Regions from separate parts of the Homo sapiens genome. Here region 1 is linked to region 2. The links come from fine-mapping of genetic effects on gene expression. Tissue or cell type: B cells. Region 2 holds a variant in brackets; the other region holds the start of a gene. All regions are shown on one strand. Distances are from middle to middle.

Region 1 (8,144 bases), 620 kb before region 2:
TCTAACAGATACTCAATAAGTATTTACTGAATAAATAAATGAATGGAAGAATGACCTGTAGGCCTTGATCCAATTCATTTGCTTAGTTTACTAGTGTCCTTCATAGTCGTGGATCCGTTTAACAAAAATTAATTTCTGTAATGAGATTATTTCTGTGAAGAGTCCTGGAATATTTTTTACCCAGTCCTATAAATCAGTGTTTTTCATTTCCTTCCATTTGTTTCCAGTTGAAATTTCTGGCATTTCCTCTCTTCCATCTAAAGAAATGTTACCCATTCTTTACCTCATCTCAATGGCTAAGCCTTCACTAAACCTCTCTGATGACCCCTGTTAAAAGTGGCCATTCCCTCCTGTAAAGTCCAAGAGCACTATGGTTGTAATTCTTTTCATAAGTGCATTATACAAGTTGCTTCCATATCCTGTCGTTTTCTTTTTTATCCCTATGTAAATGAAAAGTTCTCTGAAAAGGAATTTAGAGGAGAGAGACTATCCCAATAAACAGTTTGCAAACCTGAGAGCCACAGATTTCAGTGTAAAAGGAAGGTTTGGCTCTATTTTAAGTTAGTCCTAGTTAGCCACTTGGGATCCATCTTGAAGGATTGGTTCTTTGAGGTTTATATTTGTTTGCACAACTTCCCTGAGTCAGAATGTTGGACAAATGTTATTCTCCTTTTACAGGTAATTTGGAGAGGTTAATGGATATGTTCAGTTATACAAGCCCAGAAAATAATGGAGGTACACTAGAACTCAGATGTCTTCCTTATTCCTGTAACCACCCAATGGGTTTACTTTGCTGGCTGTCTAGACAGAGCCAAATTTATAAAGACGGGGTAATTGCAATAGAGAAAGAGTAATTCATGCAGAGCTGACTGTGCAGGAGACTGGAGTTTCATTATTACTCAAATCAGTCTCCCAGAGCATTCAGGGATCAGAATTTTTTATTTATTTATTTATTATTATTATTTTTTTGAGACGGAGTCTCACTCTGTCCTCAGGCTGGAGTGCAGTGGCGCGATCTCTGCTCACTGCAACCTCTGCCTCCCAGGTTCAAGCGATTCTCCTGCCTCAGCCTCCCGAGTAGCTGGGACTACAGGCACCCACCACGCCCAGCTAATTTTTGTATTTTTAGTAGAGATGGGATTTCACCATGTTGGCCAGGATGGTCTCACTCTCTTGACCTCATGATGCACCCACCTTCGGCCTCCCAAAGTGCTGGGATTACAGGCATGAGCCACCGCGCCCAGCTGGGGATCAGAATTTTTAAGGACAACTCGGTGAGTAGGGGGAAGCCAGTGAGCTGGGAGTGCTGATTGGTCAGGTCAAAGATGAAATCACAGGGAGTCCAAGTTGTCTTGCGTTATCAGTTCCTGGGTGGGGGCCACGAGATCAGATGAGCCAGTTTATCGATCTGGGTGATGCCAGCTGATTCATCAAGTGCGGGGTCTGCAAAATATCTCAAGCACTGGTGGTAGTTTTTACAATAGTGATGTTAGCTCCAGCAGCAATTTGGGGAGGGTCAGAATCTTGTAGCCTCCAGCTGCATGACTCCTAAGTCATAATTTCTGATCTTGTGGCTAATTTGTTAGTCCTACAAAGGCAGTCTAGTCCCCAGGCAAGAAGGAGGTTTGTTTTGGGAAAGGGCTTTTATCATCTTTGTTTCAAACTATAAACTATGAATTACATTCCTCCCAAAGTTAGTTTGGCCTACGGCCAGGAATGTACAAGACAGCTTGGAGGTTAGAAGCAAGATGGTGTTGATTAGGTCAGATCTCTTTCTCAGTTGTAATTTTGCAATGGCGGTTTAATTCCCAGTCCAGTTCTCTTTATACTGCTATGCAATGCATGTGCTCATGTTCTGGTATGTACTATTATTCTGTGTCAGTGTTATCTTCCCTACAAGATTGTAAATTTCTAGGACCTAACTTCTTAGACATGCTAATAATATTAACTAAGTGAACAAATTAATAGACCCTCAAAACTTTAAATTCAGGAATAGAAAAAAAATAAAGCTTTTTCTTCCTGTCAGCTGATTTTGCAAAGGGTATAAGGAGCCAAAGAGCTGCCACGTTGGTACAGAAGTTGGAAAACACCATACGCTTCAACTGCTGGTTAATTTTTGCTCTAAAAACTTGATGGAGGCCAGGCGCGGTGACTCACGCCTGTAATCTCAGCACTTTGGGAGGCTGAAGCGGGCGGATCACCTGAGGTCAGGAGTTTGAGACCAGCCTGGCCAACATGGTGAAACCTCGTCTCTACTAAAAATACACAAATTAGCCAGGTGTGGTGGCACGTGCCTTTAATCCCAGGTACTCGGGAGGCAGAGGGTGCAGTGAGCCAGAGATTGCGCCACTGCACTCAGCCTGGGCAACAGAGCGAGACTCCATCTCAAAAAAAAAAAAAAGCTTAATAATAAAATGGGCTTTTATATATACAAATCAGCACAAACTCATTTGAGGGAGAGTAAGATTTACCTACTTGCTCACAACTTTTTTTCCCCTGCCTCAGGCTCCTGAGTAGCTGGGATTACAGGGACGCACCACCACACCCAGCTAATCTTTGTATTTTTAGTAGAGACGAGGTTTCACCATGTCGGCCAAGCTGGTGTGATCCACCCGCCTCGGTCTCCCAAAGTGCTGGGATTACAGCGTGAGCCACCGCACCCGGCCACAACTTTCTTCTGTGTAATTTCACCTTAAATACAGCCATTTACTTGGGGGTGGAGTAAGCAAATTGCCTCTTTAATTTCTCTCCCGGGGTGGTAGAACTGTGGCATTAAACAGAAGTGCGAACAGAAGTTGAGAGTGGGAAGAAAGGCTGCCCGGAAGGGGGTCAGGAAAGCTCAGGCAAGCCCACCCTCAGGCACTACAGCTAGACTCCGAGCTTACTGGGCAGTCATCTGATTCGACCAACATCAGTTCGCAGGGCTTAAGCCCAGTCCCTTACGGCGGCCTGGGGAGGGACCAGGCCCAAGTATATAAAGCTCCCTGAGGGTCCGCGTTGGCTTTGCGCCTGTGAGTGTGATTCAAGAACGTCCCAGTGCCCTTGGCTCCTTTCGGAGTGTGACCCCGTGCTTGCACGGGACACGTTACCCAGCTCGGGTGAGAAGGGTATCTTCCGGGAACCTCGCCTTTAATAGCACAACGAGCGCAGAGTCCACTGGATCTGCGAGAAGAAACCGCGCTAACTAGTTTGTCCCTACGGCCGCCTCGTAGTCACTGCCGCGGCGCCTTGAGTCTCCGGGCCGCCTTGCCATGGCTGCCCGTGGTGTCATCGCTCCAGTTGGCGAGAGTTTGCGCTACGCTGAGTACTTGCAGCCCTCGGCCAAACGGCCAGACGCCGACGTCGACCAGCAGAGACTGGTGAGTCCTGCCAGCGGCCCCCACCCCTCTCTGGCTCCCTTGTAGTTTCTGCTTCAGCCCCCTCTACCGCCTCACCCTTGAACCTTTGTACTCCCCCGCATTCGCTCACGGTCTGTGCCCTAGCGCTCACTTGTTCAGTGGAGAGACCGCTTTGTGCTGGGCTTTGACGCCTGGGCGTGGAAGACGGAGCAGTTCTGAGGATCTGTCTCCTCAAGGAGCTTCCAGTCTTGTCTGGGACACAAACCAGAAAACAGGCAATTGCAAATACAGTAAAATAAGTGCTGTATGTGGATTTTCCTATCTCATAGGAGGCCCTAAAAACGTCTTGCAGGGGACGTGGTGGGATCAGGGACGCTTCTTGGAGAAAGCTGTAGTTAAAAATTAAGATCTGAATGAATAAAAACAGTCCATTCAGCAAGGAGAAGGGGAAAAAGTGTTTCGGGTACCAGGACTACTGTCTCCAAAGTCTCCGGCACAGAAACAGGGCCCAGTTGGAAACTCCAAGTGGTGTATTCAGGATGAACTGTAGAGCTGGAAAAAGGAAGGGTCTAACAGAAAACTGTCCAACAGAAGCATATTGTGAGCCACATACGTATTTTTACGTTTTTTTTTTTTTTTTTTTTTTTTGAGACGGAGTCTCGCTCTGTCGCCCAGGCTGGAGTGCAGTGGCGCGATCTCGGCTCACTGCAAGCTCCGCCTCCCGGTTTCAGGCCATTCTCCTGCCTCAGCCTCCCAAGTAGCTGGGACTACAGGCGCCTGCCACCACTCCCGGCTAATTTTTTGTATTTTTAGTAGAGACGGGGGTTTCACCGTGTTAGCCAGGATGGTCTCGATCTGCTTACCTCGTGATCCGCCCGCCTCGGCCTCCCAAAGTGCTGGGATTACAGGCGTGAGCCACCGCGTCCGGCATATTTTTAAGTTTTTTGTAGCCATATTAAACAACTGAAGAGAAACAGGTGGGTTTGATTTTAACCATGTATTTTCTTTAACCTGATATATGCACAGTTGCATGGTAATTTTCAACATTCAATATGAAATATTGCCCAAGTGGTGGTTTAGGCTTGTAATCCCAGCGCTTTAGGAAGCCCAGGCAGGAGGATCACTTGAGGCCATGAGTTTGGAGGACAGCCTGGGCAACACAGGAGACCCCATCTCTGCTAAAAAAAAAAAAAAAAAATTAGCTGGGTGTGGTGGTGTGAGCCTGTAGTCCTAGCTGCTTGGGAGGCTGGGTCGGGAGAATCACTTGAGCCCAGGAGTTGAGGTTATAGTGAGCTATGATTTCGCCACTGCACTCCAGCCTGAGAGACAGAGCTAGACCCTGTCTCCAACAAAGAAAAAAAAATGAGGCAGTAGAGATTTAGAAAGTTTTAAGTAACTGGTCCAGGATCATCCCTGGTAAGTGGCAGATCTACGATTCCAAATGCTACACTTTTTCCCTTATGACTTGCTGACTCCTTAGAAATAAGGATTTCTGGATATAGTATTCAGTGTATGATACAGCTGAACAAGATCAGGCAGAAGTAATCCTTTTGTGGAGAGTCGTAAAAATCCGAGTATCAGGCTTTCAAGGTAGTTGGGAGCTGTGGTAATTGGAAGATAGAACTAATATTGGTGACTTTTACATGTGTAGGTATTTTTACTTGGAAGAGGAGAGAGTTTACAGAATCCAGAGTACCACATAGGAAGCATCTTTAGTAGTCCAGGTACTTGAAGGCTAAAGTGTAGGCCAGTGATTCTCAAACTGTCTGTGTCCTGTAATATCCTGAAATCCTGAAGTCAGATTCATAGACAATAAAATCTACCTGTAAACATAACTTTTAATAATCAATATAATGCTTTAATTGAGACATAAAGGTGAAATATTTTATTAGACAATAACATGTCTACAGGCTGCGAGCGGTGTCTCGCTCCTATAATCCCAGCAATTTGGGAGGCTGAGGTGGGTGGATCACTTGAGTCAGGGGTTCGAGACCAGCCTGGCCAACAGGGCAAAACCGTGTCTCTACTAAAAATACAAAAATTAGCTGGGCATGGTAGCACAAGTCTGTAATTCCAGCTAGTAGGGAGGCTGAGGCAGAAGAATTGCTTGAACCCAGGGGGCAGAGGTTGCAGTGAGCGGAGATCATGCCACTGCACTCCAGCCTGGGCGACAGAGCGAGACTTTGTCTCAAAAAAAAGAAAATAACATGTTAACATGTCTACAATTTAAATATGTAAATACTTAGACATTACTACATTAGAAAACATAATGAAGTAATTATTAGTTGCTGTCATATTACACCAATTTGTAGAATCACTGTGTATGTGACAGCTACCAATGCAAATTGTTTATCAAATGTATTATATTGGCTTTTCAAGTAGCAGAAGGACCATTGTTCTTTACAAACTTATTTCTCCTAAATGGTGAACAATTTCTGGTAAAAACTTGAACAAAACAGTGGAATCTCCCTCAATTTACATGGCACTTGCACTTATGGAAGATTCAGTCTGTACTAAAACAGTGTAATAATGATATATTTATATATAATGAAGTTCTGGACTAAGATTATCATAAACTTTTCACCTACTTAATCTTTTAAAATTGAGGGATGCAAACAGTTTTTTGTTACACAGGCTTGTCTCATATATTTTAGGACTTCTACGATCAATGGTCCCCCATCCACCAAATACCCTCCCTTCTATTCAAATTATTGTGCAACCAAACAGGGCCTCACGTACTTTCAGAATGTCCCTAAGGGGTTGTTCTGCTTCTTTTGGGAGTTGTTGGTCCAGGCAATGACCAATAATGAGGCAGAAGATTGTTGATAATAACTTTAGGGAACTTGGAAGTACTGAAAGCAATGAGAAGCTGACAAAAGGTAAATATTAGGAAAGAAAAAAAAATGGCCTAGGTGTAGGGCATATTTGGAAATCTTATGGAAAATAGAAAATAATGTTTGTCAATGAGTTAAAGAAAAACTTTCACACTGTATTTTAAAAATGTAATTCATTTTAAGGTTTATGAAATATATCTTGTTGGGCTGGACATGGTGGCTCATGCCTGTAATTCTAGCAATTTGGAAGGTCAGGTGGGAGAATTACTTGAGCCCAGGGGTTCAAGACCCAGGGTGGGCAACATAGTGAGACCCCTGTCTTTCTAAAAGAAAAATCAAAAAGAAATAAATATATCTTGTCATATTTGTTAAATAACTTTTTCTTAGGTAAGCTTCTCTTTTGAAACTAAGAACTAATGTTCATTAGCCTGCTTAGGAGATTAAAATAATTTTTAAAAATAGGCAAAATATGTAGCATCTTGAATAAAGTTAGCATTTTACAATTAATGGTTTAATAGAAGTCATAATCAAACTTTGCACTAGCAAAGCTGTTTCTCATGGAAAAGTAGAAAAGAAACTTTAAGAGATTATTATCAAATTTTAAAGCAGTTTGAACAAAACTCAGTTTGTATGAAACGGTAGTCATTTAGTTTCCATTACTTTCCTGAAAACTGTAACTCTTACTTTTATTTTTCTTCAATTTTTATTTTAAGTTCCGGGGTACATGTGCTAGATGTGCAGGTTTGTTACACAGGTAAATGTGTGCCGTGGTGGTTTGCTGCACAGATTGTCTCATCACCTAGGTATTAAGCCCAGCATGCATTAGCTATTCTTCCTGATGCTCTCCCTCCTCCCACCCCCACAACTCTTGTTATTATTAGGATAGTGTAACATGTAAAAAAAACTAGACACATATATGTTTCATTATAAACAATCCTGATACGTGAAAACTAAAACCTGTCAAACTAATTTTCAGGCATTTATTCATTTCCAAAAATAAGACAGTACTTTTACTATTTTGCAATGATAACATGATTTAAAACATGTTTTAACAATACTTTGAAGCTTACATTGGTAATCACATGGATTATGTACTGTATACCCATATTTTTAACTTTTTTTTTTTTGAGATGGAGTCTTGCTCTGTTGCCCAGGCTGGAATGCAATGGCGGGATCTCGGCTCACTGCAGCCTCTGCCTCACAGGTTCACCTGAGTCTCCTGCCTCAGCCTCCCAAGTAGCTGGGACCACAGGCGCCTGCCACCACGCCCAGCTAATTTTTGTATTTTCAGTAGAGATAGGGTTTCCCCATGTCAGCCAGGCTGGTCTCAAACTCCTGACCTCAAGCGATCCACCCTCCTCAACCTCCCGAAGTGCTGGGATTTCAGGGGTGAGCCACCGCACCCGGCCTAACTGATTCTTTCCCACTGTTTTTTACACCATAATGGGAGGCTAGAATGTTAAGTTTCATGGACAGGGACTTTATTTGTTCTCTGGTATGTATTTCTAGCATTTATAATGGTGCCTGATGTGTGGTAAACATTCCAAAAAGAAATTGTTGAATGAATGAATGTTATTCTTGAATGGGAAGAAATGAGAAGAACTTTTCTTTCAGTGAATGGAGTAAGAATTTCCAGATGTCTACCAGTGAGTACCATACACAAAAATAGAAAATTCAGCTTATTTAAAATGTAGCTCATTATAGTCTTCCCTGAACATGCTGATTCTCCTCTTCTTTCCCCCTTTCTTGACTAGTGCCATCATGTGCACTTTCTCCTTTACCTCCACCATTCAGTTCATGAGTCACTTAGCCTCATCTCTGTAATTTTTTTCATGGTATTCCTTCCCTTGCTATTTTCTTAGTCTTTATTGTTTCTCCTCTGGCCTGTAGTGATCGCCTTTAAAAACAAGTCTCTTTGCTTCTGGTATTGTATCCTTTCTAAACTTCACACTGCCATCAGTTATTTTTCTAC
Region 2 (8,144 bases):
TGAAGTAATTATTGGGAAAAAAGGACAGTATTTTTAGAAAAGCAATTAAATTTAGCTGATAGGTGTCACTGACACTAAGGTCATTTCAACAAAAAGGATTTTCAAAGTAACAGAAGCAGAACTTAGGGCAGAAGCACCCAAGAGATGGCTTCAACAGAATCAAAGACCAATTTGCCCCAATGTTCAAGGAGAGGAAAGTATAGACTTCATTTCCCTCAAGATCCCACTGGGATTGGATTCCTTTACTTAATTAACTACTCATCCATGATACTATCTAAAAAATGCTGATCCTACAGCTTTGTGTAGACAACGTGCTATAGCCTCAACTACTCTATTTAATGGAATATCAATTTTCCTGCCTAATAGAGCTCAGAATTTGAACTTCCTTCACGTAAGCTGATATTCTCTTTCCTCATTTATACTACAGCTATGTTTGTACTGAAAGGCATGAAATATTAATATTTGTGTCCATGATCATACAGTCCAATGTAAGGAAAAATACAAGTGGAAAACTAAGAGGAAGAAACAGTCATTTCACTGTCTTTCAAAGTAAAACAATTACAATTATGTAGGAAAAATATTACTTGTAAAAATTAACTCAAAACATTTTTTATTTATAAAGAAAAATTGTTATTGATTTACATGTTTACAACTGTCCTGTCGCACAAATGTGCAAGCTCCCCTACTGTATCATAAGGTTCTTGAGGGCAGGGGTTAGATTCAGAAACTTCACCTCTTACATTGGATGCCAAGGACCGAGGGTAGGTACATAGTGTTTGTGTTCCCCCACCGTCTACCTCCTGGCTGTGAATGAACTAAGAAGACAGACTAATGATCGTGATCAGTTTAGTCATGACAGATCCAGCACAGCACCCTGGCCATTCATGACAGATGCCTATTTAGTATGAGCTGGACAACAGGGAAGTAACATCAGTGTTATCCAGTTATCTCTATGAACCACCAATTGAAACTAGATTTGATATATCTTCCCAATTGTTTAGTTTGATTTCTTCCTTTGGAATAGCTACTATTTTAAAAGTTTAGGCATATGGCAATACTTAGCAAGAAGTAAATATTTAACCCAATCTCCACTAAGTAAAGCCCTTAACATTTTATATATAATCTGAAGACATCCTGTATGTATGTGCATGTATATGTATGTATGTGTGTGTGTATATATATATATATACACACACATATATATATACATGCACATACATATAAATATCCATATATACATAAATATATATCAATATAAGCTGGCACTGTGATATAGTGCTATTTTCTACATAGTAGCAGCAAATCAAGATTACATACCAAGAGAAGGCATTTATCTTCCATCATGTGTTAATGCTGAAACACATTAACTTTCCTCTCCTCATCTCCCTACCTCTTCAGTCATGTCTACCTTTACATGCAAAATACAGTAGCTGCTTATTTTAAGGAGTACATAATTTCACTAAATATTATTCTGCTCATTGTGCTTTCTCATTCCATTCCTATCGCAAAGCTTTTAAGTTGTTTGTCAAGTCTAAAATCTCTCCTACTTTTCACTGGAGAGATTAATTTGGTAAAAATAGAATCCCAAACTGCCATTGCTCTTTTAGTCATCTTAATTAATTGTAATTAGTTTTAAAATATTCAGTTCCCGATTTCCCATAAAACTGAGGGCATCACACACACATGTGAGTTATCATTATTTCTTAGTACCAGCACTTGTGATAGAAAGGTAACCATCCATTCTTTCCTGTGGTCTTTCATACTTTCAACCCTGATTAGTATGTGAGTGGCTGGTAAATAATTAATTTTATAGTGAGTGACATATTTTGAAATCTGCAAAGTATTTTATTCTGGGAATTTAAGGCAACCCTTGCATTTCCCTAGATAGCTCTGTGTACGCCTACAATTATAAGTTGAAGCAGATTCTTGACTTTCCCATTAGCATCTAACAATTTATGAGCTTTTGATATCCATGGGATGATTTTTAAATGACGACTTTAATTCCCCAATGCATCTAGATAACTAGAAAAATAATAGACAATAAGTGAATGCTTTAGCGAAGGAATTTAACTAAGAATTTAAAGCTTCACCCAAGCTGAAAGTAATCAAATAAACTTTATAATGGTCCTGCACTGACTTCAATATTCTCTTTACATTTTTAAAGGAAGGTAGCAGCTTCAAATAACTTATTTCATGTGGACTGCATAACTATCCTATTATGTAGTAATCATTATATACAATTTACAGATAAGAAAGCTGAGGCTCATCTATTTTAGTTAAATTGCAGAATTAGGAATTGGCAGAGTTGGAGTTCAATCCAGATCCAGCTGCCTTTAAAGCCATATTCACAGTACTACACCAACCCAGGCAGAACATGGATCCTTGCTCTTCCAACATTTACAGTACCTTTCAGGTCTTATACCAAGTTTAAGCCTAAAAAACATATCTGGGTTTTGGTTATCTCATAGATTATACGAGTTACTTGGGTTCAATTTGTCACTGACCACACACTGGGTAGGCAGTGATAGGTCTGTAATATTAACCATAACTAAAGATAACATATTTTGGAAATTAATTAATTTAAAAATCAAATATAAAGAAACATGTATCAAATAATAGTTTTCCCATTAAGAATTTGGCTAAAAAATCATGATGGAAATCAAAGAAAAATGTGTGTTTTTCTTAGCCAAAATATTTATTTATTTATATCTTTAGAGAAGGGTTTCACTCTGTGCCCAGGCTAGACTAGCACGGTGGCATAATCATCGCTCATGGCAGTCTCTAATACCTGAGGCTCAAGTGATCCTCCCATCTCAAACTCCTTCTGAGTAGCTAGAACTACAGGTGCATGCCACGATGTCCAGTTAATTTTTTTTTTAAGAGAGGTAAGTTCTCACTATATTGCCCAGCACAGCCTAGAATTCTTGGCCTCAACTGATCCTGCCACCAGAGCCTACCAAAGTGCTGGGATTACAGGCATGAGCCACTGTGCTCGGCCACAGAAGTCTTTAATAAGATTCAATTGGCATCATCCATTGTCAAAGTACAAAATGTATACTTTCATTTACTACTGTAACTAAAGGTGATTAAAGAGACAACCAATCATATGCCCTTTGCACATTCTATGTAAACAATCTTTCATTACAATATCAATTAATCACCAATTCATTGGAAGTTCTGAACTCCATGGAAATTGAGTATTTAAGCAACAAGTTTGGTTGAATCCCTATTCCAAATTATTTAGTAGAACTCAGTAAGTGAAAAGAATTAGAAAATAGTTCTTCTCAGAATTCAGATTATATAAATTCACTTGTAAAATTTTACATATTTAAAAAACACCTTTTATGGTCATTATTTTAGCTAATTATGCACTAGTTTCTATTGGGTGACAATTCTCTACCCTGTGGTACCTTTTGTCTCAGACTACTATTCAAGGATGTCTGTAAAGCAAACAGCCTGGGAGGATAAAGATTATGTCTTCCTCCTCCAGGACAGAGGATAATTTTGTTTCCTGGCAAGAGTCAAAGATAATGCCTTCCTCCAGGGCAAAGGCTGGGCAAGTGTGCCAGAAACAGTTTATAAGACTGGTTATTTCCTAAACTCTGTGTTCCTCAGTTGTGACACAGATCCAACAGGTATGAAGTAACCACCTGGCCCCCTCTGCATTGCCCTCAAGGGAGGTTCCCCTCAAGCTCTACAAGATGAGAGCTTGTAGCCCATGCTGCCTGCTGTGCATTGAGCAGTAACATCCTTTATGTCTGATCCAGGAGTTTC[G/A]TGTCTTCTGCGAGCATGTATGAATCAGGCAGGCTAACTTGTTACTTCACAGGCAGGTTAAAATCTCAGACTCCTCACTGCTCTTGACAGCTCTATATGATTGATTAAATAAGTGTTTGCAGATGTTGGCTAACTCCAAGGTAAATTTTTACTCCTCCCTCTAAAGCCCAGAACTCACAGCTGTCACTTGTGCTCACGCAGTTAGGGCAAAACTAAGGAATACCATCTTCATACATGAAATTCTTGGGACTGCCTGACGACTCTGCAGCTACTGAAATGAAGGAAGTGAAGACAAGCGCAGGAGTCTTTTCCTTCTGGTGGCCACTGTTGGGTTATTAGAATCGTCATCTGTACACCAAAGACAAGCTATCCTTCTCATGCGCTGATTGATTACATGCTGTCACAGGCTAACCTGTAAATCCCTGTCATCAATCACCCTCTCTCACAGAGGATATGGGAAGATTTCATGTCTCAATCATGCTCTCCAGTTTACCCCAGGGTGACAAAAGCCAGATAGAGTCTTGGGGCACTGAGGTGATCATACTCACTTTCCCTTCTCGCCTCATCATTTAGATGGATACAACACTAGATAGTAACGGGCAACGTTTACAGAGCACGTCTCAATAATCGTTTTATCCTTCTCCCACACTAGAGATGCAGACAAGCAAAATTTCTATTTTCTCTTCACAGAGGCTCAATGAATTGAAGTGGCTTGATCCAGGCCCAGATCTGGTAACCAAGGAAGCAGAAGCTTCTTACCATTCCATGTTCTCTCTACTTCACAAAACCAAGGAGGCCAATAGATGGTCTCAGCACCCATTCTGGCCCTCTCAGAGGCGTCTTTGGCTACTCTCTAATGGACCTTGTAAGGGGCAGGGAAGTGCAGTGGTTAGGGAACACAGTCAAGAGCTAGATTGCCTGAGATTTTAAATCCTGTCTCATTCACTCATTAGCCAGTCACTCCTGGCTCAGTCACTTAGGCAATTTATTTAACCTTTGTGTGCCTTAGTGTCATCATGTGTAAAATGGGGATAATAATAGTGCTTCTATTGTAGGATTATTATAAAGATTGAATAAAATAAATAAACTACTGTATCTGACACCACCATTGCTACCACTACAACTGCTTTGAGTCCCTTTTAGACACACTGATCCCTTTCTGGTTAGAAGCCCAATTTCTGATTGTCAGGCTTGGTTAGGAATTCAGGTGAACTTCCCCAGGGTCTCCATATCCAACCCTGCAAAACAGCAATCTAGGCTCACTCTGCCATCAGGAACCAAATTATCAAGAAGAATGTGACAAGTTCCACAAATATTTCTTGTGGAATGAATAAATGACTTAGGAAGACTCTCTGTTCTGCAATATACATTCTGGAAGAGAAATGAGGCTTTGGGCTTGACTATCCCTATACCCCCTTTGTGAATAAATCCATGTGACAGGCAGAATGATGACTACCACCAAACCCCCAAAGATGTCCAGCGTCTATTTCCTGGAACCCATGAATATGTTACCTTATATGGCAAAATAGATTTTGCAGATGTGATTATGATTAATGGCCTGGAGATGGGAGATTATCCTGTATTTTCCAAGTAAACTCAATCTAATCACATCAGTCCTTAAAAACGAAGAACCTTTTTCAGCTGTAGAGAACCAGACAGATGGCAGAATGAGAAGGTCTCGACCCACCATTGCTGGCTTTGAAGACAGAAAGGCATCACAACCAAGGAATGTGTGTGACCTGTAGAAAATGGAAAAGGCAAGAGCATGGATCTCCCCCAAAGTCTTCAGCCATGCTGACACTTTGATTTGAGCCCAGTGAGAACTGTGTTGGACTTCCGACCTGCAGAACTGTTAAGACTATACATCTGTGTTGTTCAAGCCACTGGGTTTGTGGTAATTTATTAGGGCAACAATAGAATCTCTGGATTCTTCCACTAGGGAAAGATCATAACCCAGTACTGGGACTATTCTGTAGGGTTAAGCAACAGGAAAGCATGTATTTACTCACCAATTCATTCATTGATTCATCTTTTTTATTCATATTGAGCACCTACCACAGCCCAGACACTGTTCTTTGGGCTACAGAAAACAACAGTGAACCAGAGAGCCATGGTCAGCTTCTGCAACCACGCAGCTTACAACTCAAAGCTGACAGATAGAGATTAAGCAGCCAATTAATAAATTAGATAACTGCAAACAGTAGAAAGTGCTGTGAAGAAAATAAAATAAGATGATGAGATAGAGAACACAGAGGGCAGAGCTGGGGAAACAGAAACCCCAGATTTGGGTGGATGGAAGGCTAAGAAATGACATTTGCCAGCTAAGCAAAGGTCCAAGAGAGTTCATAAGCCACTAACTCGTGGCTGACCTAGCCTTCTTATGGATGCTGTAAGAGGTGAAATACCTGTTTTTGAGAAATTGATATGACTTCTCACTCCAAGGAAAAGTGTGCTGTGTGAATTGCTACTCTAATTTTCCTGTCTCCACTCTTCACAAGCATGACTTTTAAGGCTTTATTTTTACCATATTTTATGAACAGTGTAAAGGCAGCATTATCCCAGAGTCCCTGCATATCATTTTCAGTGAGAGTACTCAGCGTTCTCCTTATCTGAATATGGATGTGGTTAGACTCCCTGTGACGGCTACATTGCTGTTACTGTGATAGATTTCCCTGTGCTGGCTGCAACCTGTATCAGCGACACTGGCTCTGAAACCAAATGCATTGCTCAGGGTTAGACCCAGACACAGTGCTAGAGCCTACGCAGACCACAGCTGTCTCTACTGCACATTTAGTTATGACAAAAATGTCAAAGCGTGAAGGTGGCAAATAAAGTGTCATATCATGTAGGAATGATGGTCTCTGATATCCAAATCATACACACACAAAACAGGCCACTCAATTCATTTATTGTAATGTCTTGCTCTAATATCTATGGGAAAATAGTACAAACAACTTCAATTTTTATTCAGGTTGTCATAGTGTCAATAATTACATCTCATAATTACCCCTTTCATAGGTTGTCTATAAAAGTAAAACTAGAACATCCAAGTAATCTGTCTCAACCCAGAGTTCCCAGACACACGCAAACAATGCAGGGCAACGCAAATTACCTTCACACCCTGGTTAGTTTGTTCTACAGATGCCTTACTGTGTGAGAAGGGGCTAAGCTGAGGCATAAAATGAATCCAATTCTGAAGCTACTCTAACCATTTCTAGTGTTGTATATGTTAATATAATGAACTTACAAATAAACAATATCTAGTAAGATGGCTTTTGTGTTGGGGGTGAGAGGTGCAGAGTTCACACTTTGATAATTCACTGATTCCAAGAATGGTGCTCAGGTTTTAGAGCCAGAGTATCTAGATTTGATTTCCAACTTCATCATATAATAACTCTATGACCTTGAAGAAGACATTTCCCTGACATAGCATCAATCCATTTTTTCTCTATGAATTGAGGTCAAAAGTAGCACACACACTGCCTGGTTCAGAGGGTTCTCACAAAATGAGAAAGACTTTGTAAACTATAGAACACAAGTGCAAACCAAAAGTCCCTTGGCCTCCTAGCGCTACAGATATGTTGTATTTAAGGCAACAGCCTAAGTCCCAATCCTCTGAGCTCCAAGCATGGACTAACAAGTCTGAGCTTTTCCTGGGATCCCCTCCTCAGTTACTCCCTCCAGGATTCCCTGACAGTCAGACTTATGGCCTGCTACCTGACAACCCTCCTCTCCTACTCTCTTGAACTTTTCCTCTGCTCCACATGCCTTCATCACTCTGCCATCCACCAGTCACCATCAACACCTCTGACAACGTTCTCACGGAAGACAACTTCTTCTACAGCACAAAGAATGGGGTGAAGAGGGAAGGGAAGGAACCTCAAGGCCTCACCATCAGGGAAGCCATTTCCACTCTTGAGCCTTGCTTTTTCAAAACAGGGCTGCCAAAGTAACACCGTTAGGTATCACTGACCAGTTCTTGGCAGGGGCTGGCAAATTTTACCAATAAAGGGCCAGATAGTAAATATTTTAGCTTTTGAAGACCACATCTGTCTCTGTAGCATATTCTTCTTTGCTTTTTTTTCTTTTTATGACCCTTTAAAAATGCATAAACAATCCAGCAGGCCACAGGCTGGATTTTCCTCAAGGGCCATAGTTCACTGATCCCTGCGTTATGACACAGCTATCGTTCATGCCATAGTATACTTGTTTTTTGTGTGAGCAGGAGTCTGTTGCCAGTAGGGGGAATTGAGGGGAGGCTCATTAGGTCAGGGGAGGTACCTAGAACCACTGCCCCTGGGACTTTCAAACCCAGGAGCTTGGCCGCGCATGGTGGCCTCACTCCTGTAATCCCAGCACTTTGGGAGGCC

What was found. PIP is the estimated chance that this variant, and not a neighbour inherited with it, causes the effect.
Region 1: DNAJC15 starts here. The variant in region 2 is fine-mapped to the expression of DNAJC15 in B cells (Schmiedel 2018, PIP 0.95).

The regions. Positions count from the first base shown.
Region 1 is chr13:43,020,376-43,028,519 of GRCh38, forward strand. DNAJC15 (DnaJ heat shock protein family (Hsp40) member C15) reads left to right here and starts at 3,211. Exons shown (of 6, transcript NM_013238.3): 1 at 3,211-3,359. The coding sequence starts at 3,252. RefSeq lists enhancers at 3,030-3,089, 3,100-3,149, 3,660-3,709.
Region 2 is chr13:43,642,461-43,650,604 of GRCh38, forward strand. All of the region lies in intron 2 of ENOX1 (ecto-NOX disulfide-thiol exchanger 1), which reads right to left. Among named protein-coding and RNA genes, the nearest start is that of ENOX1, 140 kb to the right of the region's middle. The variant G/A (reference allele first, on the strand shown) is at 3,775.